Linked DNA regions of Homo sapiens. The protein of the gene in region 6 purifies or fractionates together with the protein of the main gene of each other region. This does not show direct contact. Each region holds a gene or a part of one and is shown on either strand. Other genes may lie near its edges. The genes, in order: KCNJ8, ABCA3, SLC12A9, SCAP, CLCN7, MCOLN3 and TMEM219.

What was found.
Region 1: the proteins of MCOLN3 (region 6) and KCNJ8 purify together in Homo sapiens (affinity purification with mass spectrometry; 3 studies listed by BioGRID and IntAct, with this or other methods). This does not show direct contact.
Region 2: the proteins of MCOLN3 (region 6) and ABCA3 purify together in Homo sapiens (affinity purification with mass spectrometry; 3 studies listed by BioGRID and IntAct, with this or other methods). This does not show direct contact.
Region 3: the proteins of MCOLN3 (region 6) and SLC12A9 purify together in Homo sapiens (affinity purification with mass spectrometry; 3 studies listed by BioGRID and IntAct, with this or other methods). This does not show direct contact.
Region 4: the proteins of MCOLN3 (region 6) and SCAP purify together in Homo sapiens (affinity purification with mass spectrometry; 3 studies listed by BioGRID and IntAct, with this or other methods). This does not show direct contact.
Region 5: the proteins of MCOLN3 (region 6) and CLCN7 purify together in Homo sapiens (affinity purification with mass spectrometry; 3 studies listed by BioGRID and IntAct, with this or other methods). This does not show direct contact.
Region 7: the proteins of MCOLN3 (region 6) and TMEM219 purify together in Homo sapiens (affinity purification with mass spectrometry; 3 studies listed by BioGRID and IntAct, with this or other methods). This does not show direct contact.

What each region holds. Positions count from the first base shown.
Region 1 is NC_000012.12:21,764,707-21,768,206, reverse strand, and holds the end of KCNJ8 (ATP-sensitive inward rectifier potassium channel 8), read left to right. Parts: intron 1-1,583; coding exon 1,584-2,484; 3' UTR 2,485-3,252; downstream 3,253-3,500. UniProt on the Homo sapiens protein: Inward rectifier potassium channels are characterized by a greater tendency to allow potassium to flow into the cell rather than out of it.
Region 2 is NC_000016.10:2,337,929-2,342,172, reverse strand, and holds the start of ABCA3 (phospholipid-transporting ATPase ABCA3), read left to right. Parts: upstream 1-1,444; 5' UTR 1,445-1,600; intron 1,601-4,244. UniProt on the Homo sapiens protein: Catalyzes the ATP-dependent transport of phospholipids such as phosphatidylcholine and phosphoglycerol from the cytoplasm into the lumen side of lamellar bodies, in turn participates in the lamellar bodies biogenesis and homeostasis of pulmonary surfactant.
Region 3 is NC_000007.14:100,855,713-100,859,212, forward strand, and holds part of SLC12A9 (solute carrier family 12 member 9), read left to right. Parts: coding exon 1-125; intron 126-1,155; coding exon 1,156-1,464; intron 1,465-3,122; coding exon 3,123-3,230; intron 3,231-3,337; coding exon 3,338-3,449; intron 3,450-3,500. UniProt on the Homo sapiens protein: May be an inhibitor of SLC12A1. Seems to correspond to a subunit of a multimeric transport system and thus, additional subunits may be required for its function. May play a role in lysosomal ion flux and osmoregulation.
Region 4 is NC_000003.12:47,416,942-47,420,441, reverse strand, and holds part of SCAP (sterol regulatory element-binding protein cleavage-activating protein), read left to right. Parts: intron 1-737; coding exon 738-1,114; intron 1,115-1,598; coding exon 1,599-1,787; intron 1,788-1,919; coding exon 1,920-2,121; intron 2,122-2,192; coding exon 2,193-2,308; intron 2,309-2,615; coding exon 2,616-3,138; intron 3,139-3,234; coding exon 3,235-3,320; intron 3,321-3,500. UniProt on the Homo sapiens protein: Escort protein required for cholesterol as well as lipid homeostasis.
Region 5 is NC_000016.10:1,458,029-1,461,528, reverse strand, and holds part of CLCN7 (H(+)/Cl(-) exchange transporter 7), read left to right. Parts: intron 1-58; coding exon 59-124; intron 125-580; coding exon 581-713; intron 714-1,001; coding exon 1,002-1,111; intron 1,112-2,341; coding exon 2,342-2,422; intron 2,423-3,500. UniProt on the Homo sapiens protein: Slowly voltage-gated channel mediating the exchange of chloride ions against protons. Functions as antiporter and contributes to the acidification of the lysosome lumen and may be involved in maintaining lysosomal pH.
Region 6 is NC_000001.11:85,045,701-85,049,917, reverse strand, and holds the start of MCOLN3 (mucolipin-3), read left to right. Parts: upstream 1-1,417; 5' UTR 1,418-1,522; intron 1,523-1,652; exon of another isoform or gene 1,653-1,660; coding exon of another isoform or gene 1,661-1,730; intron 1,731-2,308; exon of another isoform or gene 2,309-2,343; intron 2,344-4,217. UniProt on the Homo sapiens protein: Nonselective cation channel probably playing a role in the regulation of membrane trafficking events. Acts as a Ca(2+)-permeable cation channel with inwardly rectifying activity.
Region 7 is NC_000016.10:29,965,079-29,968,578, forward strand, and holds part of TMEM219 (insulin-like growth factor-binding protein 3 receptor isoform 1 precursor), read left to right. Parts: intron 1-2,946; coding exon 2,947-3,176; intron 3,177-3,500. UniProt on the Homo sapiens protein: Cell death receptor specific for IGFBP3, may mediate caspase-8-dependent apoptosis upon ligand binding.

The DNA.
Region 1 (3,500 bases), on a different chromosome or scaffold from region 6:
TGTCACATCAGTGGGGGCATTAGATTCTCATAGGAGTGTGAACCCTACGGTGAACTGCGAAGGTGAGGGATCTAGGCTGCGGGCTCCTTGTAAGAATCTAATTCCTGATGATCTGAGGTGGAACAGTTTCATCTCGAAACCATTTCCCCCCACACACACCCCCCAGTATTGTCTTCTACAAAACCAGTCCCTGTTGCCAAAAAGGCTGGGGACTGCTGCCCTAAACAATTACAATAATGACATCAAATATCACTAATCACACATCATGGTAACTGATGTAATAATAATGAAAAAGTTTGAAATTTTGTGAGAATTACCAAAATGTGACACACAGACACAAAGTGAGCACGTTTTGAAAAAATTGTGATAATAGACTGGCTGGATGAAGGTTGCCACAGACCTTCAATTTATAAAAATGCAGTATCTGCAAAATACATTACAGCAGAGAAGAATAAAATAAGGCATATCTGTATGTGACCTTGACACAGTCATTTACTAGTTTCTGCCCCTAGTTCTCCCTTTAATCATTTCAGTATTCTCCAGAACACCTAGAGTAGTGCTCCCCAACCTTTTTGGAGCCAGGGACTGGTTTTGCGGAACGCCAATTTTTCCACTGATGGGGGTGGGGGATGGGGATGGTGTGGGGATAAAACTGTCCCACCTCAGATCATGAGGCATTAGATTCTCATAAGGAGGGATAACCTATATCTCCCACATGTGCAATTCACAATAAGGTTCACTATACCATGAGAATCCAGTGCCTCCACTAACCTGACTGGAGGCAGAGCTCTGGCGGTAATGCTGGCTTACCCACTACTCACCTCCTGCTGTGTGGCCTAGTTCCTGACAAGCCATGGACCAGCACTGGTCCCTGGCCTGGAGGTGGGGGGGGGGGGGGTTGGGGACCCCTGACTTAACAAAATTAGATCATCAATAAGACACTTTTCTTTCCAAATGGAAAACAACTCCCTTCTATTAAAAATACTAGTTGTTTGGAATAATGTGTTTTATACTAGTTTTTTTAGCACTGTGCTATTTCTATATGAGACACAAAATAAGTATTAGCTAATGAATATGATTTTAAAGATTATAAATAATAAATTCACTCAGTACTCAGTACCTTCCATATGACTCAAGTCTCCTAAACATAGATACGCAATAAATAATAAACATCTACCTGGTAGAAAGTTTTACAAAGTAAACTGTGCCTTTGTGAAAGTGAAGTATTTCGCAAGGTAAAATATGCATATATATGAAAATATATTAATCTTTTACACAAATTAGGCCCATCACTATGTGACCTATGAAACATTAATAGAATGTTAATAGAATTAGGCCTTAGCTTAAGGGAACTTAATTAATAGAATGTTAATCTCCAGAAGTCTGGAGGTAGATGCATGCAAGAGAGAGAGAGACTGTTCTAAACACAGTTTAGAATTAGGCATTTTACAAGTTTAAGTTGGCTAGTCTTTCTGCAAGCATTTAATAGTCTTTGGTGGAAGAAAATGAAAAGCTCAGCTTGGCATATTTCATTATTCAAAATGTGACCTGATGGTGTTCTTTTCTGATATCATTCCTCACAGGTCTTTCACTTCTGCTTTTCTCTTCTCCATTGAAGTTCAAGTTACCATTGGGTTTGGAGGGAGGATGATGACAGAGGAATGCCCTTTGGCCATCACGGTTTTGATTCTCCAGAATATTGTGGGTTTGATCATCAATGCAGTCATGTTAGGCTGCATTTTCATGAAAACAGCTCAGGCTCACAGAAGGGCAGAAACTTTGATTTTCAGCCGCCATGCTGTGATTGCCGTCCGAAATGGCAAGCTGTGCTTCATGTTCCGAGTGGGTGACCTGAGGAAAAGCATGATCATTAGTGCCTCTGTGCGCATCCAGGTGGTCAAGAAAACAACTACACCTGAAGGGGAGGTGGTTCCTATTCACCAACTGGACATTCCTGTTGATAACCCAATCGAGAGCAATAACATTTTTCTGGTGGCCCCTTTGATCATCTGCCACGTGATTGACAAGCGCAGTCCCCTGTATGACATCTCAGCAACTGACCTGGCCAACCAAGACTTGGAGGTCATAGTTATTCTGGAAGGAGTGGTTGAAACTACTGGCATCACCACACAAGCACGAACCTCCTACATTGCTGAGGAGATCCAATGGGGCCACCGCTTTGTGTCCATTGTGACTGAGGAAGAAGGAGTGTATTCTGTGGATTACTCCAAATTTGGCAACACTGTTAAAGTAGCTGCTCCACGGTGCAGTGCCCGAGAGCTGGATGAGAAACCTTCCATCCTTATTCAGACCCTCCAAAAGAGTGAACTGTCTCATCAAAATTCTCTGAGGAAGCGCAACTCCATGAGAAGAAACAATTCCATGAGGAGGAACAATTCTATCCGAAGGAACAATTCTTCCCTCATGGTACCAAAGGTGCAATTTATGACTCCAGAAGGAAATCAAAACACATCGGAATCATGACAGCAAGATAACCCCAAGACAGTCTTTTATCAAGTTTTGACGGTTTATGCTGGGCACTGCCAGACTGAACCAGAGCTGGAACACAATAATGTGTCCTTCTACATTTTATTACACTAAATGATATTCATATTCAAGCAACAGCACTTTCTGTAGTAATAAAAAGTAACACACCAAGTGGAGGATTCATGGCTTATGCTTGTTTCATACATGTAGAATTCGCAGTGATATACTTAAGTTATGTGCAGGGGTGGGTATGCTCGTTTCTCTCAATTTGAAACACAAGAATTACACTAATAGTAACAGGCCTTGAGCACAAAATTTGGTCAAGAAATGAGTCTGTTTGAAATGCTTAGTTGGTGAAACCCAGATCGCTGTGTTACTAATGATCACTCTGGAAATGCAAATAGAATAGGAGGGGAAAAAACAAAATCATGTTAATGCGTTTTGTACATCAGCCTTCTCCTGTCTCCATGATAACTGCATTTGGTAGGAAGCCTGAGGCAAAAACTGCTTAAGTGGATCTGTTTGTAAGTGGATTCAGTTCATTCGCTTTGTCTGTCGGTGACTCCTGAAGGTTTCCTGGTCCATCTCATTGCGGCCTGTTGGGCAGAGCTGGACAAGGTGTCTTTGAAGGAAAGCTAAGTCTTGTCTCATTTAGGACTGGGTTCCCCACAGTGACAGTCACTTCCTTCAGCATCTCACTTCTTCTTCTAGAATCCCCACAGGGAAATACTGTATTGAATATTTTATTAAAACATTTTCTTTGTACTCACTGTAGTTTTGTGATTCCTCTTTCACAAAATCATCCCAAGTTAAAACTCAAGATGTTTTTAGAGCCATGTAAAAGAGATGTCAAAGTGATAACACTCACTCTGAGATTCCTCTCTCTCAAGTCTGTTTGCTCCAAAACTAGCTTTTTTTTGCTTTGTTTTGATTTTATTTCAGGTTTTAAAATGTCCTCTTGGTTTTTCAATCTAAGCCTGACATACCATAAAAATCCTATAAGCTTTTTTTTT
Region 2 (4,244 bases), on a different chromosome or scaffold from region 6:
GGGGGTGGGCGATTTCCGCCCCCGGCCCGGGGCGTTGCATTAGGTCGGGGCCGTCGGGTCGTGGTGCCGGCGGCTGGCTGGGCGCGGGGCTGGCGGTGCGGGTCGCAGGCGGCTCCCAGCGGCAGGACCGGCAGCAGCCCTCCCTCACCCGGGGCGCCGGGACCACGGACGCACCTCACTGTGGTCCGGCCGCTGGCGGCGCTCGGGGACCCATTGGCCCCGGCCCGCGGCAACTGTCGGCCCCGCGCGGCGCCCGCCCTCATGCTGGAGCCCGGGAGTCCCTCACTCCACCTCTCCCTGCCACGCCAAGGGGGCCCGCCCCTCCCAGGCTCTCCTGCCTGGGGCGACCCAGTCCCACGACCCGGTCCGGCCCAGGGACACCCCGACCCACCTCCCCACTCCCGTCCCGTTAGACCGCGACCCGTCCCTGGGACCGCCTAATGTGACACGCCCGGGACCCTCCCTGCAGGCGACTCCCTGCAGGGCCCCCGCCCTGGACACTCCCTCCAGGTGACCCCGTTCCGCTCGCTCCGTGAGGTGACCCCGACCCTCTCCGGACCACCTCCTCAGGTGACCCCGACCCTCTCCGGACCCTCCCCGACCCTCCCCTCAGGTGAACCCGACCCTCCCCGGACCATCCCGTCGGGTGACCCCAACCATCCCCGAACCCCCCCACCCTCCCCTCAGGTGACCCCGACCCTCTCTGGACCCTCCTCACAGGCGGCCCCGCCCCACCCCGGGACCCTCCCGCCAGGTGACCCCGACAAGGCCGGGCCCTCCTGCCTGAGGTGACTCCTACCCGGCTGGGGACCCCCGAGGCCTCCCTCGCTCCTTAAGTGAGGGCGACTCCGCTCATCCCGGGACACCGCGCCTTCTCCTGTAAACTCGACGCCTGCCCCGACGGCCGAATTCCAGAAGGTTCCTCGCCGCCGCCTCGCCTTCGGTCGCGCCCCAGCGCCCGGCCAGAGGCGGGGAAGCCCTTCCCCCGGTGCCAGGAGTGACGAGGGCCCAAGGAAAGACAGTGCGTGAGGAGAAATGGAGAAACGGCCAAAGTCGAGTTTCCGGGTGTGAAGACTTCCACTGCTGCGAAACGCACGTGCGCAGAGTCATTCCTGTCAGAGGCCACCGCGCCCTCGCTCGGCTACCGCCGCTGCGCGCCCCCTGCTGGACATAGGCGCGGGCACAGAGCAGTGCGCAAGCACGGGCTGCCGCGCGGCCGGGTGCGAACCGCGTACTCGCAGGGTGGCTGACTGCGCACGCGCAAGTCAGAGCGCCCTCTGCCGGGCATGGGCGACATGCAGGGGGCACCGCGCAGGCGCGGGGTTGGGCTGGCCGGAGCGGCCGAGGCGGCCGGGGGTGGACCGGGCACCTGCAGGGGCGGCCGACTGCGCACGCGCCATCCGCGGCGCCCCCTGCAGGAGCCGGAGCGGCCGCTGCGTCCGCCAGTAGCGGGTTGCAGGCGCACCCTCCCCTCCAGGGCGGCCACGCAGCTGTCAGTGCCGCCGCCACTGCGAGGCTGGAGCGGAGCCCGGGTGGCCGAGGGAGGGGACCCCGCGAGAGGGCCGCGCGCCGGCCGCCGCCGCCCCGGCGCCCAGGCTCGGTGAGTGCCGCCGGGACCCGCCGCTCGCGCGCTCGTTCCCGGGGCTTGCGGTCCCCACCCGGGTCCGCCCTTCCCACCCTCGCCGGCCAGCTCGGGCCTCGGGCCCCCCCCAGCTCCGGCCTGGCCTGCGGGCCCCTCCCGCGACCCCGCATCCCCTCCGGCCGCGCCCGCGCCCGCCCCTCCTGCCGCGGCCTCGGCTCCGGGCGCTCCCTGCAGGTGCCGCTCCCTCAGCGTCGGCTCCCATCCGAGCCTTGGGCGTGTCCCGCACTGCGGGCAGTGCCTGAGCCCGCGCCGCGCGGGGAAGCTCGACCCTGCGGAGACTCGGCACGGCCCGGGCCCTCTGTGTGCGCCCAGAAGGTGGATATGTAGCGACCGACAGCCCCGGCCCCGAGGGATGCAGGCGTCCGCCGCGCACTTGCGGAGATGGCGCCGCTTTCCGGCCGCAGGGATGCCGGGCGCGCGGTGGCAAAGCCGCCCGGGTTGGATTCCGCCTGCTCCCACCCTCTGGTTCCGAGGAGCCTCCAAATCCGAATCCAAGGCCCACGGTCCGCGGCGGGCGTTTGCTGCGCCCTCCACTGTGTGGGAACGGGAAAGGGGAGCCGCTAGTCCAGGCGGAGGGGCTTGTGGCAGTCGCCGGAGGCCGCGTTCTCGGCGCCCTCGGTCAGGACGCCTGTGTGCATCGCGTCCGTGTGTCTTGGCTCTGTTCCAAGCCGGCTCCACGCTTCAGAAGGGCCGGGACGGCCTTATGGTCAGGGGCGTGGGGAAGGCGCTTGGTGTCTGTCGCACAGATGAAGCCATGTCCTCAGGGGGTAATTGCCGCTTGTTCTCCGGGTTACGTCCTGGACTGTGCACTCCGGGAAGGCGTCGATTGGATCTTGTTGGGGTTTGTGTTCCTGGAACTCCAGAAATGCCCGCTGAGTGAGTAGCCGAGACCCCGCGACAGCATGGAGCCCAGGCAGGGAGCACGTGGGAGAGGTTCACTCTTCTCCTGGGCATCCCGTCATTTTATTCAGATAGTCTGGGCGCTGCCTTTTGTAAACTTGAAAAGACTAAGACTGTTTTAGAAAGTTTGCCTCATGAGAAATGTAAGAGAAAGGGAAAAATAGATAAAAATGGATGTCATGGGAATCTCCCCCACACTTTCATTTTTAACTTCTTAGATAATTTTTCTTTTAAATTGAACCTTTGCTAACTCTACCTGAAAAACAGGACGACGTCTCTCCCTTCCTAAAGTGACTTACCACCATTCTGACCAGACAGGCTTTTGGAACAGGAGAGGGTAGCACGAGTTGTTTCTAAAAAGATGTTAGCCTTCCATCTGCATGAGCCAGGCAGTCTCATGGGAGCCCATTTTGACGTAGTCTCAACTGGGAAGGCCCAGGTAAGATCCCTAGTTTGCCATTTCTTCCCCAGCCCTGCTTCCGGAGACTGTGGAATCTATTGAGGGGAAGCATTCTGGAACTTTGGGGACGGCTCTGACGGGGAAGGCCTTGTGCACAATGGAAAGATGAATTGGAAGCCGGGCTAAGTGGCTCACACCTGTAATCCCAGCACTTTGGGAGGCAGAGGCGGGCGGATCACTTGAGTTCAGGAGTTCGAGACCAGCCTGGCCAACATGGCGAAACCTCATCTTTACCAAAAATATAAAAAATTAGCCGGGCATGGTGGCACGTGCCTGTAATCCCAGCTACTCAGGAGGCTGAGGCAGAAGAATCGCTTGAACATATTAGGTGGAGGTTACAGTGAGCTGAGATGGCACCACTGCCCTCCAGCCTGGGCGACAGAGCAAGACTCTGTCTCAAAAAAAAAAAAAAAAAAAAAGATGAATTGGACACAGTCCCTGCTCTTGGAGGGGTCTTAGGATAGAGCTAAAGAGATGCTTTATTCACAAGTAACTGTGACATAAGACAGAACAAGATGAGTACCACATGACACATCCAGAAAAGGTGCAACAGGTGACCAGAGGTGGAGGAGAGTTGGCTCCAAGAAGAGCAGAGGGTCTCCACCCAGGCTTCCCGTTACAATCACCTGGGAAGCCAGCCTGGGCCCAAAACAGCCCAGAATCTCCAGGGGTGGGCCTCAGATGTCAGTTTCTGTCTTAAAGTGCCCTGGAAAATTCCATTGTGCAGGCAGCCAAGACAAAGAGCCCCTGAAACAAGCTTCACAGAGGCCATGGTACTAGAAGTGGGCTGGGAAGTGATGGGTAGGTAGAGAAAGGTATCCGGGTGATATTCTAGGCAGACAAAACACTGAAGGCCCACATCTTGTGGGGAAGAGTGAGGCATGTCAGGCCCTGTCCTGGGAGAGTTTTGCAGACCCCATTCCCCTGAATGGCTCAGAGTGTTTGTGGTGTTGGAGAGGTTTGGAGTCAACAGGCAGACAGGTGCCTTTGCGGGAGCCGTGTAACGAGGTCCTTGCTAACTTGCTTGTTGGAGAACATCCATGGTTACCTCCCTCTGGGGACTTTCCATTGCCTCATTACCTCGTTTCCTGCACCTAGGGAGGCAGAACAGCTAGCTGGCTGGAGAACGGGACTGAAGCCACGGCAAGGGTTAGGGAAACAGGCAGTAGCAGAGATTTTGTGGAAGTCTGTCCCGATAGCTCCCTTTGGAACCACGTCTCTGGCTTAAAAATACACCCTATG
Region 3 (3,500 bases), on a different chromosome or scaffold from region 6:
CAGCCGCACACTGGGGCCCGAGGTCGGGGGCAGCATTGGGCTCATGTTCTACCTGGCTAACGTCTGTGGCTGTGCCGTCTCCCTCCTGGGGCTGGTGGAGTCTGTGCTTGATGTCTTCGGGGCCGGTCTGTGCTCTGTCCGATCTGGGCAGTGCTGCGGGTTTACAGGGTCTGGGAGTGTGGGATCATGAGGGAGAAGGTCCTCTCCAGCAGAGGGGCAGACTGAGCCATTACCTTGGCTTTCTGGAGCTTCTGCTGTGTGGCCAGCATCGTGCAGGAGATATGGACATCCCTGAGATTGTCCTTGCCTGCAGGGAGCTAACCATCTAATCGGAGAGACCAGGCTAAGATTCTTAAAACTGACAGAGACCACCAGGGAGAGCTAAGATGCTAGGATGGAGCTAAGAGGGAAGTGGGGAAGGTGGACTCTCTGATAGCAGGTGGGCAGAGGAGGGCTTGTCTTGCTTTGGGTCACAGTTGGGGCTGGGTCCCTTCTTATTTATTTATTTATTTTGAGATGGAGTCTTGCTTTGTTGCCCAGGCTGGAGTACAGTGGTGTGATCTCCGCTCACTGCAACCTTTGCCTCCCGGGTTCAAGCAATTCTCCTGCCTTAGCCTCTTGAGTAGCTGGGATTACAGGCACTCACCACCACGCCTGGCTAATGTTTGTATTTTTAGTAGAGACGGGGTTTCACCATGTTGGCCAGGCTGGTCTTGAACTCCTGACCTCAAGTGATCCACCTGCCTCAGCTTCCCAAAGTGTTGGGATTACAGGCGTGAGCCCCGGCGCCCTGCCCCTTCTTCTTTTTTTTTTTTTTCTTGAGAGAAGGTCTCACTCTGTCACCAAGGCTGGAGTGCAGTGGTACCATCTCGGCTCAATGCAACTTCTGCCTCCCGGGCTCATGCGATTCTCCCACCTCAGCCTCCCAGTAGCTGGACTACAGGCATGCCTCCCCACACCTGGCTAATTTTGCAGTTTTTGTGGAGCTGGGGTTTCACAATGTTGCCCAGGTTAGTTTTAAACTCCTGGACTCAAGCAATCCTCCCACCTCGGCCTCCCAAAGTGCTGGAATTATAGATGTGAGCCGCCCACCATGCCCGGCTGGTGGGGTGCCTTAGGATCGGGCCTTCTAACTCTGTCCCTACCTCTCTCCAGATGCCACAGGGCCCAGTGGGCTCCGGGTCCTGCCCCAGGGCTACGGCTGGAACCTGCTGTATGGCTCCCTGCTGCTGGGCCTTGTGGGTGGGGTCTGCACCCTGGGAGCCGGCCTCTATGCCCGGGCCTCATTCCTCACATTCCTGCTGGTCTCTGGCTCCCTGGCCTCTGTGCTCATCAGTTTTGTGGCTGTGGGGCCGAGGGACATCCGCTTGACTCCTAGGCCTGGCCCCAATGGCTCCTCCCTGCCGCCCCGGTTTGGCCACTTCACCGGCTTCAACAGCAGTACCCTGAAGGACAACTTGGGCGGTGAGCTGGGTGCTGCCGTGGCAGGGATCTCGGGGTGAGGGGTGGGCAGACGTCGGGCCGGGCCCGTAAAACCTCTGGATGAGCACAGGTGTCAGAGGGAATGGAGGGCAGGAGGTCTGGACTGCAGAGCAGTGCAATTTAATTCAAGCCTGTCTAGCGTGTGCTTGGCCGGCAGGGCAGGAGGAAGCCCACAAAACAGTCCCTGCTTTAGAGGAACTTGTGTTCTAGCTGAGGAGAGACATGCATTCAGGAATCAGTTAAATAGCACAGAATGGCCCAGCATGACTTAAACAGATCAGGATCACCCAGGAGTGGAGAGAAGGGAGGCCTGACTATGGGCTGGGGAGGGCAGGAGCCGGGGAGCTGGAGGTGGCCTGAGATAGACAGGTGGGGGATTCAGCCAGGAGCTGGGAGCAGAGAGGGAAGGCATCTCAGGAAAGAGCTTGAGACCAGGTGCGGTGGCTCACGCCTGTAATCCCAGCATTCTGGGAGGCCGAGGCAGGAGGATCACCTGAGGTCAGGAGTTTGAGACCAGTCTGGCCAACATGGTGAAACCCTCTCCCCGTCTCTACTAAAAACACGAAAATTAGCTGGGCACGCTGGCTTGCACCTGTAGTGCCAGACACTCGGGAAGCTGAGGGAGAACTGATTGAACCCGGGAGGAGGAGCCGAGATTGTGCCATTCAGTGAGCCGAGATTGCACCATTGCACTCCAGCCTGGGAGACAGTGAGGTTCCCTCTCCAAAAAACAAACAAACAAAAAAAACACCATAAAATAAAAATACAAAAATTAGCCAGGGGTGGTGGTGCGCACCTGTAGTCCCAGCTACTCAGGAGGCTGAGGCATGAGAATCTCTTGAACCCGGGAGGCAGAGGCTGCAGTGAGCTAAGATCGCCACCACTGCCCTCCAGCCTGGGCTTCAGAACGAGACTCCGTCTCAAAAAAATAAATAGGCTGGGTGCGGTGGCTCCCGCCTGTAATCCCAGGACTTTCGGAGGTCGAGGCGGGTGGATCACCTGAGTCCAGGAGTTCGAGATCAGCCTGGCCAACATGGTGAAACCCCATCTCTACTAAAAATACAAAAATTAGCCAGGCGTGGTGGCGGGCACCTGTAATCCCAGCTACCTGAGAGGCTGAGACAGGGGAATTGCTTGAACCTGGGAGGCAGAAGTTGCAGTGAGCCGAGATCGCACCACTGCACTCTCGCCTGGGTGACACAGCGAGACTCCATCTCAAAATAAATAAATAAATAAAATTAAAAAGTTAGATGGGCATGGTGGTGCACACCTGTAGTCCCAGCTACTTGGCAGACTGAGGCAGGAGGATCGCTCTAGCCCAGGAGGTAGAGGTTGCAGTGAGCTACGATGGTGCCACTGCACTCCAGCCTGGATGACAGAGCCAGACCCTGTCTCTAAAAAATAAATAAATAAATAAAAGAGCGTGGATTAGGGTCTGGAGGGAGGAATATCGGAGCACTGGGGGGACGTGGCAATGTGTCTGGCTGACCCAGGGCCAGTGCAGGAACAGGCTGGGGTCTTAGTGAGGGCAGTGCAGGGGAGGCAAGAGGACCGTGGGAATGTGTGGAGAGGGTGGCTAAGAGGCCTGGATCCCTGAGACGGATGCTGATGCACTCTCCTCCCTGGGAGGATCCTCCTAGCTGGCTATGCTGAGGACTACACCACGGGAGCCGTGATGAATTTTGCCAGCGTCTTTGCTGTCCTCTTTAACGGCTGTACAGGCATCATGGCTGGGGCCAACATGTCAGGTGAGAGTCCCTGCCTGCTGCCTCCTGGGGGTTTGGGGCTGCCACCGTGAGGGACCCAGGGGGATGGCTGGAGGGCTGACCTCACTCCCTCTGCTCCCCCTCTCCAGGGGAGCTGAAGGACCCCAGCCGGGCGATCCCTCTGGGCACGATCGTCGCCGTCGCCTACACCTTCTTCGTCTATGTCCTGCTTTTCTTTCTCTCCAGCTTCACTTGTGACAGGTGTCTGGGGAGGGATGGGGGTGGAGTGTCGAACAAGATTGGTGCACCTGG
Region 4 (3,500 bases), on a different chromosome or scaffold from region 6:
GGCCCCTGGAAGCCTGGCTCTGGGGAGTTGCCCGTTGTGTCCTCCCTGCCCAGACCCTAGTGGCTTCTGAGGAGATAAGCCTGTGGGAGAAGCAGCTCCAGGGTTCTCAGGTACAGGAGCCATCCTCTCCCCAGAGTGGCCCAGGACAGGAGCCTGTTAGTTGAGTGCTCTGGGATGGACCCACTTGTGGCCACCACATTGCCCTGGGTCGGGTTCATCGGCCGCTGCATGGTGTGCAGACACTGGAAAGTGCTGGGCAAAATCATTCACCAGCCGGGCTGGGCTGGCCTTGGGGCAGCAGTGCCTCTTCCAGGGAGCTGAACTGAGATGGGAGGAAGGCTGAGGCCCCCTGGGACTAGGACCTCTGGGGGACTCTGGAGCAGGTCAGGTTGCTGGCCCTCTGACCGTAGGAATGGTAGCAGCTTTCTGGCTCCAGCTGAGGTGGAGCTTAGGGGTGGGGACATTCTGTGTCAAACCTCAGGGTGCTTCAGTGTATTTCCAGGCCAAGAAACTCAGCCCCTAACTGTGGAAAGGCAAGCAGGCCCCTCCAGCAGCAAGTGTTGGCAGGTGTTAGCAGGAGGACTTGGAGAGGCAGGAGAAAAGGACGCAGTGGGGCCTGTGTCCTCTCTCCATCCCCAGGCCTGAGGTCCCTGTGCTGCTTCCTCTCAGCATGAGGGCTGAAGCTGCTGGGGGTTGGGGCCCATTCCTCCCACTGAGTACCCCCTGCCCCACTGCAGGCTGGCACCGTTGTCTGGATTGGCATCCTGGTATACACAGACCCAGCAGGGCTGCGCAACTACCTCGCTGCCCAGGTGACGGAACAGAGCCCATTGGGTGAGGGAGCCCTGGCTCCCATGCCCGTGCCTAGTGGCATGCTGCCCCCCAGCCACCCGGACCCTGCCTTCTCCATCTTCCCACCTGATGCCCCTAAGCTACCTGAGAACCAGACGTCGCCAGGCGAGTCACCTGAGCGTGGAGGTCCAGCAGAGGTTGTCCATGACAGCCCAGTCCCAGAGGTAACCTGGGGGCCTGAGGATGAGGAACTTTGGAGGAAATTGTCCTTCCGCCACTGGCCGACGCTCTTCAGCTATTACAACATCACACTGGCCAAGAGGTGAGCTGGGCCGTGCCAGGTGCCACCTCACTCGATGGTGTCAACTCACCATCCCCTTTCCCCAATGCAGGAGGCCCACAGGTTTGAATTATGCAAATAATTAAAACAGTTCATAAGGTTGTGAGGTGGGAACTGGTGGTTTAGGCAGCTATAACCCAAGAGAGGAGTCCCAGGTTGCTCTGAGGAGTCACTGGTGGCTGCCAGCCCTCACCAGAATGAGACCCACCCACCTGTGCCAGGAGTGGGGAGGGAGATACCCCACACGGCCACCAGGGCTGTTTGGGTGCTGGTATCTGGGACAGCAAGTTGGCTGCTAAGCTGGGCTGGGGAGGGACCTACCTCTGTCCCCAACCCCCCATGCTGGGAGAGTCTGGCCGGTGGAGCTGAGGCCTGCCTGGGGAGGAGGGAGAGGACTGGCTGGCGAGCACAGCAGGAGGAAGCCCTGGGAGGCCCCCCGCTGAGGCTGCCCACTGTCCGAATCCAGGTACATCAGCCTGCTGCCCGTCATCCCAGTCACGCTCCGCCTGAACCCGAGGGAGGCTCTGGAGGGCCGGCACCCTCAGGACGGCCGCAGTGCCTGGCCCCCACCGGGGCCCATACCTGCTGGGCACTGGGAAGCAGGACCCAAGGGCCCAGGTGGGGTGCAGGCCCATGGAGACGTCACGCTGTACAAGTAAGGCTGCTGGGTGGGGTGGGGTGGGAAAGAGTGCGGGGAGGGGGACGGGTAGGCAAGAGTAGGGGAGAGGGAGGAGGGGAGGGGACAGGCTGTGAGGTGTGTCTCACAGCAGTCCGCCCTCCCGTGCAGGGTGGCGGCGCTGGGCCTGGCCACCGGCATCGTCTTGGTGCTGCTGCTGCTCTGCCTCTACCGCGTGCTATGCCCGCGCAACTACGGGCAGCTGGGTGGTGGGCCCGGGCGGCGGAGGCGCGGGGAGCTGCCCTGCGACGACTACGGCTATGCGCCACCCGAGACGGAGATCGTGCCGCTTGTGCTGCGCGGCCACCTCATGGTGAGCAGGGGCACAGTGGCCGGGTAGGGGAGGGCCGGAGCCTGGCCCATACCAACACCGGGCTTCTGCAGGACATCGAGTGCCTGGCCAGCGACGGCATGCTGCTGGTGAGCTGCTGCCTGGCAGGCCACGTCTGCGTGTGGGACGCGCAGACCGGGGATTGCCTAACGCGCATTCCGCGCCCAGGGTAGGTGCGGCTGCCCTTTCCTCCTTTGTGCCCCCACAACCCCCCTCACCCCACCCCCCGCCGCCACGTATCTCCCCTCCTTTCTTCCTCCGAGGTATCCCCCAACCCCTCCAGGCCCCCTCTCCCCCCACCCCCGCACCCCCTCCCACCACCCCGTACCCCCCTCTCCCCACCCCGCACCACCCTCTCCCCCCACCCCCTTTTCCCTTGCCCCTTCTCACTCCCACGCCCCCTCTCACCCCCGTCCCCCGCCCCCTCTCACCCCCCTCCCCCGTGCCCCCTCTCACTCCGCCCTCCTGGCCCCCAGCAGGCAGCGCCGGGACAGTGGCGTGGGCAGCGGGCTTGAGGCTCAGGAGAGCTGGGAACGACTTTCAGATGGTGGGAAGGCTGGTCCAGAGGAGCCTGGGGACAGCCCTCCCCTGAGACACCGCCCCCGGGGCCCTCCGCCGCCTTCCCTCTTCGGGGACCAGCCTGACCTCACCTGCTTAATTGACACCAACTTTTCAGCGCAGCCTCGGTCCTCACAGCCCACTCAGCCCGAGCCCCGGCACCGGGCGGTCTGTGGCCGCTCTCGGGACTCCCCAGGCTATGACTTCAGCTGCCTGGTGCAGCGGGTGTACCAGGAGGAGGGGCTGGCGGCCGTCTGCACACCAGCCCTGCGCCCACCCTCGCCTGGGCCGGTGCTGTCCCAGGCCCCTGAGGACGAGGGTGGCTCCCCCGAGAAAGGCTCCCCTTCCCTCGCCTGGGCCCCCAGTGCCGAGGGTTCCATCTGGAGCTTGGAGCTGCAGGGCAACCTCATCGTGGTGGGGCGGAGCAGCGGCCGGCTGGAGGTGGGCAGAGGGGCTAAAGGTGGGCAGAGCGGCTGTCCGCCCCGGGGATTGTGGGCCTTTCTGGCTGGCAGGTGCTCACAGCCTCTGGACTCGTAGGTGTGGGACGCCATTGAAGGGGTGCTGTGCTGCAGCAGCGAGGAGGTCTCCTCAGGCATTACCGCTCTGGTGTTCTTGGACAAAAGGTGAGCGTGGCCTGCCTCAGCCCCAGATGTCCCCAGCCTTTGTTGGCTAGGCCATACTCTCTTGAGTCTTGAGTTCTGGTTCTCTTCAACTGCTGTACTGTATGATTCGATTGACCTTCTTGGTGCCCAGCTCCACACCTGTGAGCAGAGGGCAGTCCACTTGGATGGGAAGGTAACAAT
Region 5 (3,500 bases), on a different chromosome or scaffold from region 6:
CCCGCACCCAGAGCGTGGGTTCGGTGCTGAGTGCTGCCCTTGCTGTCCCGGCCTGCAGAGCTTGGACTATGACAACAGTGAGAACCAGCTGTTCCTGGAGGAGGAGCGGCGGATCAATCACACGGTGAGCTGGACGCCGCTCCCTGCAGGGCCCCACGGTGCGGGGCCTGGTGCCGGCCGGGCCTGGGGCTGCTCTTCTGCCGGGGTGAGGTGACGCACCTCCTCCCTCCTCCTCTGACTCCGCCTCTGAGGCCTGTGGTTCGTCTGGTTTCTAGAGACAGTGGGAGGGTCACGGTCACCGTAACCAAGAAGGCTGCTCTTACGGCCGCCAGATGCGGTGCCCAGCATAACAACCGCTGGCTGTGAAGTTGTTGGGAATTCACCCACCTCCCCGAGTCACCCTCGGGCCCCGGGTGCGCCTCAGATGTTGGCCAGAAACTGTCCTTTGTGGGACTCAGCGCACCGTGCACACTGGGCCCTTCATAATCCCGGGGCCTGCAGGCGGTCTGGGCGGTCCTGCTGCTGCCAGAGTGACTGCGCCAGGGCCCTGCCTGACCCTCGCCCTGACCGCGCCCTGCAGGCCTTCCGGACGGTGGAGATCAAGCGCTGGGTCATCTGCGCCCTCATTGGGATCCTCACGGGCCTCGTGGCCTGCTTCATTGACATCGTGGTGGAAAACCTGGCTGGCCTCAAGTACAGGGTCATCAAGGGCAGTATCCTTCCCAGTGCGGCCGCTGCAGCTTGGGAGGGGGGCGTGGCCTGGGCCGAGTCCCGGGCAGAAGTCCTGAGCCCAGCGTGTTCCAGTGCAGGTGGAGGCGGCCCGGCCAGGCTGGCTGTGTCCCTGTCATGGTTGGGCCGTGAGACGTCTCTGGGATGTCCAGTGAACATCATGGCTCCACCCAGCAGGGTGGCATCTGCCAGGCTGGTCTGTGGGGCAGGGCTGAGGTCTGGGCTGGGTGGTCATGACGGGGAAGCAGCCAGCCCTCCTTGATGAGCCCCAGATATCGACAAGTTCACAGAGAAGGGCGGACTGTCCTTCTCCCTGTTGCTGTGGGCCACGCTGAACGCCGCCTTCGTGCTCGTGGGCTCTGTGATTGTGGCTTTCATAGAGGTGGGTGGCAGGATGCCGCAGCTATGGCGGACCCCATGAAGGATTGGGGGTCTTGGTGAATGGGCGGGAACCCCTGCAGCTCACCCACCCCCACCATCACATTGGCTGACAACCCGGGCACTTTTAGAATCACGTGGTCCAGACTCACAACCTCAGGAGGAGCAGACACACCAGGGCCTCTTCACCCCCAGAGCCCTGGGGTGCTGCTCCTGACCTACCAGCACAGGCCTGGGCACCCTCACCCCACTCCGCCCCTCCTTCCATCTCCTCACTCTGCCCTCCCCTCCTTCCATCTCCACCTCCGCCTCCACCACGTCCTTGATCTGTGTCTGGGCTGGGAAGAGTGAGAGCAGCTACCCCAACGACATGAGACCCTTCCCTGGGGCCCCAACGTGTGTGCTGCTCTTCCCTTCCCTGAGGCCCCGACGTGTGTGCTGAGCTCCCCTTCCCTGGGGCCCCGAAGTGTGTGCTGCTCTCCCCTTCCCTGAGGCCCCGACGTGTGTGCTGCTCTCCCCTTCCCTGAGGCCCCGACATGTGTGCTGAGCTCCCCTTCCCTGGGGCCCCGACGTGTGTGCTGAGCTCCCCTTCCCTGAGGCCCCGACGTGTGTGCCGCTCTCCCCTTCCCTGGGGCCCCGAAGTGTGTGCTGAGCTCCCCTTCCCTGGGGCCCCGAAGTGTGTGCTGAGCTCCCCTTCCCTGAGGCCCCGACATGTGTGCTGAGCTCCCCTTCCCTGAGGCCCCGACGTGTGTGCCGCTCTCCCCTTCCCTGGGGCCCCGAAGTGTGTGCTGAGCTCCCCTTCCCTGGGGCCCCGAAGTGTGTGCTGAGCTCCCCTTCCCTGAGGCCCCGACATGTGTGCTGCTCTCCCCTTCCCTGGGGCCCCGAAGTGTGTGCTGAGCTCCCCTTCCCTGAGGCCCCGACATGTGTGCTGCTCTCCCCTTCCCTGAGGCCCCGACGCGTGTGCTGCTCTCCCCTTCCCTGATGCCCCGACGTGTGTGCTGAGCTCCCCTTCCCTGGGGCCCCGACGTGTGCGCTGCTCTCCCCTTCCCTGGGGCCCTGACGTGTGTGCTGCTCTTCCCTTCCCTGGGGCCCCGACGTTTGTGTGCTGAGCTCCCCTTCCCTGAGGCCCCGACGTGTCTGCTGCTCTCCTCAGCTCCTGGGGCTCCTGGGGCTGAGGGGCTGCATCTGTCTCAGCCTGGCCGTGACCCACTCAGCCGTGCTTCCCCTCTTTCAGCCGGTGGCTGCTGGCAGCGGAATCCCCCAGATCAAGTGCTTCCTCAACGGGGTGAAGATCCCCCACGTGGTGCGGCTCAAGGTGAGGGTGCGGTGGCCCTGGCTGGGCAGGGTGGGCGCCCGCTCTTTGCTGGTTCAGGAGCAGCTCTCTTGGCTGCCTGCCTTCCAGAACTGGCCTCAGCCACCCTGTGTACTGGTGGCACTGTGTGCAGATGGGCTGGCTGGGTGTGAAGGGGTCACCTTTTTTTCTGAAAGTGGTAACAACTGGTATTTGCACATATTAAATTACGTAAGAAATGAGTAGTCATACAGAAATGCTTGCGTGGTGCATGTGTGACACAGCTGTGCGACGCGTCTGTGACTGTGGGCTGCGTGGTGGTGACTGATTCACCGTGGAAGCTGTCGTGGTAGTGGGCGTGTAGCAGTTTCCCGCTTTCAGTTTGCCTCATGGTCATTTACACTTGGTGTTATCAGAGCATCTGGTTCTGGAGGTGCTGGGAGTCCTGACCCAGTTCCGCTGTGGTTGCTTCTGTCTGTGCCGCCATCGTTCCTTAGCCTGAGACTTGCCGCAGCCCCGTCCCGTCTGAGGATGGGTGGGCAGCATGGCCGCTGCCCCCTGGGGGTGCTTCCGGGGCCTGGTCCCCGTGGCCAAGGAGCGGGACCAGTGTGTCCCCTCTGGCGAAAGCTCCCAGGTGACCTTGGGGTGCCCCTGCCCTGTGGTGGGAGATCAGGTTTACTGGAGCAGCTGGGAATGGCGACCCGCCTGTCACCCGCGCCAGGCTGGCCTGAACCTTCTTGGATGTTGCTCTATAACTTTTGTTGGCTGAGGGTTGAGTTTGCTCGGCATCTTTAACATACAGTCCTCCCCCACACACTCAGCGCCCTTGTGTTTAGGGTCTGCGCCCTTGTGGGTTCTGCCCTGGGGCAGGGAGGCTGATAAACACCTTACACACCTTCTCAGGTGGAGAGGATGAGGCCCCTGGGGGCGGGGAGCAGCCGAAGGGAGAGGGGGCATCGTGGAGCCGCAGGTGACCAGCCTTCCAGTGCCAGGGGTGTATGAGGAGCCTTGCTAGGCGGGGCTAGCGGGAACACCTCCCCTGTGCTGGCCACGCTGGCGGAGGCAGGTGTGCCTGTAGGATGCGGTGGGCGGCCCAGCTTTG
Region 6 (4,217 bases):
TCTGTAATGGAGCAGCCGGCAGGTTGAATAAAGGCTTGCCTGAACTTGGGTCTCGGTCTCTCTCGGTCTCTCTCTCCCTCTCTCTCTCTCTCTCTCGTCCTTTCTCTCGGCTAACTTCACAGATTGCACATAAAAAAGAAAAGGGGTTCAGAGAAGGTAAGTAACTCCCTAGAGACCAATAAGTGGCACAGAAGGGAATTTGGGCCCTCATCTGTCTGACTCCAAAACCTGGCTTTATCTATTCACCGGTCCTTATAACTCAGCTAAAACGAGGGTTAAGCAAGTGCCATCATTTATGACTGTGAACCTCTTCAAAGTTCAGATTGTTCCTGAACAATCAAGCATTTCAAACTCTTACCATCAAGTAAGGAGATAGCGTTACATCGTGTGTAGGCATATGGGGATTAAAGATTACATTATATTTTCCAAATTGCACTTGAGAATTGACTGTGCCAATTATATCCTTTCTGGGTATCTACCTTGTTCACAGTATGTGGGATCCAGGTTGAGGAACAGCATAAAATTCTTGTACCCTGTTGCAAAAATTTATTAGTAATCCATGCATACTGGTTTAGGATTTGAAAACAGGTTTTATAAAAGGTTTGCTAGGTATCGATCTAATTTCAGGAATACCCTAGTAGGGAAATTCAGTGACCTTTACAAATTTACCCGTGGCCAAAAAAAAAAAATAAGTAAAAATTAAAAATCAGAACACATCCAAAGTAATTATAATTAAAATTAACCAAAGTTCCTGATCCAATCCTGATAAGGGGTATTAGGTTTAATATTTACAGATAATTTATGAAGAAAAAGATTACGGTTCAAAGTCTACTTCAGGTATTTCTATTTACATTTCTTGGAAAAGTTTCCCAGGGCTCTTTCTGCCCCAGCCGCCAATCTACAGAAGAGTCTAGTCGACTGTCCACTCATTTCACAGCACTTGTCTGAAACTAGAAGACCCAGGGAGGGAACAAGGTTCAGGCTTGAAACGCTAAGACATTCAAGATTTCACCTTGTATGCAAAAATCAGAATGGGAGGCTGCAGCGGGGCCTCACACTCACCGGAGCTAGGCGCTATAGATCCCGCACCCGCGGAGCCCGGCAACCACCTGAGGGGCCTTGGCCAGGAGGGGGTGGCCCCCCGGCGCCGGCGGCAGCTCCGGAGCAAACCTGGCAAACCCGAGCAGGGCGGTGCGGGTTGCTCAGGGAGAAAATGAAGGGAGTGATAGGGTGGGGGTGGCAGGGAACGGGCACAACGCCGGCTTCCTCCGGACGGCCTCCTGCGTCCCACCTGTGCTCCTGAAAAGCGGCCCCCGACAGGGCGCGGCGGGAACCCGAGCCGGGAGTAGGGTCACGAGTTAAAGCGGCGGGGGCGGGAGGATGCGCGGGCGGCGGACGGGGCGCTCTCCTCCCGTCTGACTCTGGGCGGAGCGGGGCTCGAGGCTGCTGGAGTCGCTCGCTGACTCGCCCTGCGCCCTCGCCGCGGACACCGGAGCTGCGGCCGCTCCCCGCTGTCCCCCAGGTGAGCCCGCGGGGCGCTGCCCCGGGGCGTCGGGTGTCGCGGGAACGGCGCCCGCGGCGCACAGGGAGGGCCGGGGAGGCCGGGAGGCAGCGAGCTGTCGGGGACGCCGCGGGAAGGCCGGGCCGGGCAGTCGGCGCCATGGAGGGCAGGCGGGCTGGAGCTGGGCGCGAGATGCAGCTGTTCCGCGCCGCCCCCAAGCCGCCCGCAGGTCAGTGGAGGAGCGCGCCTGCCGGGCCTGCCCGGGGCTGGGCGGGTGGGGGTGCTCTGCTCCTCGGTCCCCCTCCAGGCCGCCGCCCACCTGTGGCCAGGGCTCAGAGGGCTGGAAGCCACCCCCGCCCGGAGCCCCTGGGCTGGAAGGCTTGGATGCCGGCCGGGGCTCCAGATGGCCTTGACGCGGCTCGGCTGGCCCCTTTCAAGGCGGACTGTCCCCCTGTTAGAGGTGGGGGCGGCTGGAAGTGGGGGCTCAGGCCCGGGTCGCTGCGCTGGCTGAAAGCAGCCGCCAGCCGGGCTGCGGCCGTCTGAGCTCCACGGCAGTGCCCGGGGATGGCAGCGACCGCTCTGGGACATCGCTGCAACCCTGCAGATCTTTCTCGCACACACTACCCAACAAAAGTGTCAACCCTTGTTGTTTGTTTGTTTGAAAAAAAAAGAAGACTGGAGAGACTAAAGTTTTGTGTCTGGTGAAGTGGGAAAGCGCTTCTGAAAAAACGAGGTTGCATAACTTTGTCGCCAACTGGGAGGCCTTTGCTATTTATACACTCCCGGGCTTTCTCCAATTTTCTACAGCTTACTCCAATCAAGCCTCTGCCCGCCAGGAACAGGTAACCTGTGTGTGTCCGTTTGCTCCTTCTAAGAGCATGCCTGATAGATACTTCGGTAGCCTCTCCGGATGGCCCCTTCGTCGGGTAGCCTCTCCTGATGGGGTCCTTCGCCCACCCTGCCTCCCGCGCCGGCGCTCCGGGTGAATGTCAAGGGTGGCTGGCTGCGAATACCTCCTTCAGCTGCTGGGGTTCCCGACAGTTTGCAGTTTTTAAAAGTGCACCCTCGGAAGGGCTTTTCAGACTGGGTAAACCTGACTTTTCCAAGGTCAGCATCTGGTCCTGGTGAATGAAATGTCTACCGGGACAACTCGTTGTGATGTGCTGAATATATGCTGGTTGGCTTGTTTTCTCTTTGTTCCTGTGGATTACTGTACATGGTGTGTGGCTAGTTTGTTTAAAATTTAATTTTCCCTGTATCAAAGTGGAAAGCGCTTAGTGTCAATATACAACTCACCAACATGCTTATTAACAGCTTCATCATTATGTTGGTGTTCATATGCGAGCTTTGGTCAACATGAAATCATCTGCGTTTTAAGTCCTATAGATAAAGTCTCCTTAAATGCTGGTTAAAATATCCTGCCTTTTTGAAGGAAGTAAAACTGTTAAGTGAAAATCCTAATTTATTAATAACTTTTTCTTTCCTTTATGCCTTTACCTAAGAATTACTGCATTTATGCTTTGACAGGCATTTTAACACGCACACAGGAGCCACACTTTAATGAGTTATATAATAATTATTTCATTTTGAAGGTACTGCATTTGCCATACAGTAAATATGTTTTATGGTTTATTCATCCAGCAGTATCCTTATTAATCTTTTCATTAACAAGAGTTTAAGAACCTTCCCCATGCTATTCTTTATAGCCAGTATCTATTGTTCGGAGATGTTGGGCTTCCTAAGAATGCTTGAATTGGAATCAAAAGTGGGGTTCTAGACTTGGAAAGCAGCATGGTATCTAACCAGTGACTTGTAAGATATTGTATGAATGCAGGTTACAATTTTCCTTCTTCATTGCTGAGTACAAGTTATTATTAAAATGTCAAATAAAGCCTGCCTTTCTATTCCGTATGGAAGGACGCTACTCATTGTTTGGGGTATTTTACTTTGAACAGGTTTCCATAGTATAATATCAATCTTAGTCTGAGGGAAAATCCAAGATCCATCCCAGTCTCTAGAGTGACTTCTCCGTCACTTTGAAAAAACTGATTCTGAAGACAATAAAACCAGCCCGACCCAACCCTTTTCAAACGTACCTGCCCCCCCCCCCAAATAGATATGAAGTACTTTGAAAATATGCTATAAATATAAGGCCTTCAATAAAAAGTCATTACAAGCGATGCCACAGACTGGGAATTAGGCTTAAATTGAGGGCCCATTTTCCCCTTTGTACAACAGTTATGTTTCCTGAGGCTCATACTGCCCCTTAAGAACCTTACTGGCTTTCTAGGAAGCCACCCTGTCTGCTGTGGGTGTTAGGTAGGTGAGTCTGCTTAGCGCTAGACCCTATGCAAAGGCTTTGTTTACTGTTTTATTTAATGCTCTCTACACTCATAACTATTTAATTCTGGCTACAATCATAGAAGGGTAGGTGTAGTTATTCCCATTTTGCTGGAGAGGAAACTGAGGCTCAGAAGGGCTAAGTGATTTCCCTGAGATTGCAGAAACGTCAAGTCATGGAACCAGGATTAGAAACCAAACTGAATCTTGTTCTTTACACTACACCCTGCTATCTTTAACTCGGTGGTTTTAAACATTTTTTGATAATCTGTGAAAGTTTTAGTTACCTCCCAGGAAAAAGTGTCCACAGCCACATATATGAAAGTTTTCATATAACTTCAAGGCCCACCTACCCTCTGAAGTCCTTCCCCCAGGT
Region 7 (3,500 bases), on a different chromosome or scaffold from region 6:
AAGCGATAGGGAGAATGTGAAAATGTCAGTGGATGCCAATAATCCCTGTGTGACATTTGGCCTTATCTAAAATATGCTAAGATAAAGAGGGATGGAAGAGGGTGGTATTTTCTGACTTCTGAGGTCCTTTACAACACTATCATTCTAAGATTCTCCTGTGAGTATATATGTGTCGGGGGAGTGGGTCTCTGCATGTCCAGATGTACATGTATGTTAACAAAAATAAGGAATGTGTCCGATATATGCAGACTTGGGACAATTCTTTCCCATTCTTTTTACTTTTAAATAGATATATAATAGTTTTATTGAGATATGATTCATGTACCATACAATTCACCCATTGAAAGTGTACAGTTAGGGCCGGATGTGGTGGCTCATGCCTGTAATCCCAGCACTTTGGGAGGCCAAGGCAGGCAGATTGCTTGAGCGCAGGTGTTCGAGACCAGCCTGGACAAAATGGCAAGACTCTGTCTCTACTAAAAATACAAAAAAAAAAAAAAAAAAAAGCCAGGCGTGGTGGTGCACACCTGTGGTCCCAGCTACTTGGGAGGCTAAGGTGGGAGGATTGCTTATCCCTGGGAGGCAGGGCTTGCAGTAAACATTCTCCTGCCTCAGCCTCCTGAGTAGCTGGGATTACAGGTGCTCGCCATCACGCTCACCTAATTCCCGCCCCCCAGCCCAAGGAGTCTTGCTCTGTCACCCAGACTGGAGGGCAGTGATGCGATCTCAGCTCACTGAACCTCTGCCTCCCAGTTTCAGGAGATTCTCCTGCCTCAGTCTCCCAAGTAGCTGGGATTACAGGCATGTGGCACCATGCCCAGCTAATTTTTGTATTTTTAGTAGAGATGGGGTTTCACCATGTTGGCCAGGCTGGTCTTGAACTCCTGACCTCATGATCCGCCCGCCTTGGCCTCCCAAAGTGCTGGGATTACAGGTGTGAGCCACTGCGCCTGGCCAATTTTTGTATTTTTTATAGAGATGTGGTCTCACTATGTTGCCCAGGCTAGTTTCAAACTACTGGGCTCAAGTGATCCTCCTGCCTCACCTCCCAAAGTGCTGGGATTACAGGCATGAGCTACCGGGTCTGGCGTATTACCCAATTGTTTTATTTACTTTCTCTTGATTGCTAGTAAGGTTGAGCCTCTTATGGTTTATTGTCTGTATTCATGTTGCCTGTGAATTACCTGTTTGTTTCCTTTGTTCCTTTTTCTTTTAAGTTATTTGTCTTTTTCTTCTTGATTTGTAGGTCTTTATTCTAGATAGTAAACCTTTTGTCATTTAAATATATTATAGGTATTTTCAATATGTTACTTGTTTTTTTAACTTATCTTTCATTGCATAGAAGTCTTTAATTTTTATGAGGTTAGGTTTATCACTCTTGTCCTTTATTAAAACTTTTAGGTTTTGTGTCTTTCATAGGAAGCCCTTCCTCATTTTAAAATTAGAAAATATTCTGGCCAGGCGTGGTGGCTCATTCCTATAATCCCAGCCTTTGGAAGGCTGAGGCAGGTGGATCACCTGAGGTCAGGAGTTCAAGACTGGCCTGGCCAACATGATGAAACCCCGTCTCTACTAAAAATACAAAAAATTAGCCAGGCATGGTCGTGGGCACCTGTAATCCCAGCTACTCACAAGGCTGAGGCAGGAGAATTGCTTAAACCTAGGAGGTGGAGGTTGCAGTGAGCTGAGATTGCACCACTGCACTCCAGCCTGGGCAACAAGAGTGAAACTCTGTCTCAAAAATAATAAAATAAAATAAAATAAAATAAAATATTCTGTATTTTCTTTAAATACTTAAGTTTTTTTTTAGTTTGTATAGTTCTTTAATACATCTGAACTTTATTTTATAAGATAACAGTTTGACGCTATGTTTTTTTCTACATGGAAATTTTCCCAAGGCCATTTACTGAGGCCATCCTTTCCCCACTAATTTAAAATAGGGTGAGAACCTTTTAATGGATTTTGGTACCAAGTGAGAAACTGCTTTCTTAAAAAGAATGAACTAGTTTATGCAAACTGACATGGGCAATGTGTATCTGCCCATTTCACTGCAGCCTTGCGAGTATTAGTATGGTTGTTGTATTGATTGTAATTTAAGTTAATTTAAATTACAACTTAATTTGTGTTTATATTGATACAAAGTTATTTTCATTTCTCAGTGATATAAATAATGGTATATGGAATACTTTATTGAATAGAATCAATGCCAAAACACCTGGTATTATAGAAAGCCTTAAAAAATGACTAGGGGCAGGCGTGGTGGTTCATGCCTGGAATCCCAACATTTTGGGAGGTCAGGGTAGCAGGATGGCTTGAGCCCAGGAGTTTGAGTCCAGCCCGGGCAATACAGTGATACCCTGTCTCTACAAAAAAATTTTTTTAAATTAGCCAGGTAGGTGGCACACACTTGTAGCCCTGCCTACTCAGGAGACTGAGGTGGGAGGATCACTTGAGCCTAGGAGGTTGAGGCTCCCGTGAGCTGGGATCGTGCCACTGCACTCCAACCTGCACGACAAAGTGAGACCCCATCTCAAAAAAATAAAGAAAGAAAGAAAATACAAGAAAAGGGCCGGGCACGGTGGCTCACGCCTGTAATCCCAGCACTTTGGGAGGCCAAGGCGGGCGGATCACGAGGTCAGGAGATCAAGACCATCCTGGCTACCACAGTGAAACCCCGTCTCTACTAAAAATACAAAAAATTAGCTGGGCCTGGTGGTGGGCACCTGTAGTCCCAGCTACTCGGGAGACTGAGGCAGGAGAATGGTGTGAACCCGGGAGGCGGAGCTTGCAGTGAGCCGAGATTGCGCCACTGCACTCCAGCCTGGGTGATAGAGCGAGACTCCGCCTCAAAAAAAAAAAAAGAAAATACAAGAAAAGAAGCGTGAAGACAGAGGCTCCCGCGTCACCTCTCATTTTCTTCCATTTTCTCTTCTGTGCCTTTCACAGGATCTTCTGCAGGACAACTGGTCCTTATCACAGCCAGGGTGACCACAGAAAGGACTGCAGGAACCTGCCTATATTTTAGTGCTGTTCCAGGAATCCTACCCTCCAGCCAGCCACCCATATCCTGCTCAGAGGAGGGGGCTGGAAATGCCACCCTGAGCCCTAGAATGGGTGAGGAATGTGTTAGTGTCTGGAGCCATGAAGGCCTTGTGCTGACCAAGCTGCTCACCTCGGTAAGAGCCTCAGATGGGTCGCCAGGGTTTTGTAGACTGCCTGCTGACTACTGTATCTTGAAGGTCCCTGGAAACAATTCTACCTTGTAGAAAAAGCACAGGTTTTATAACCCTGCCTTGGGGGCTGTGTGACGTAGAACAAGTGTCTAAACATCTCTGAGTGTCAGCATCCTCATCTGTAAAACAGAAAACATGACCCTATCTCTTAATTCCATCAAATAAGGATTAAATGAGAATGACCGTGAAGTGCCCAGCACATTGCCTGGGACATAGAGATTTGATAAGTGACAGCTATTGTTGTTTACTATTGTCTTTAAAACATTC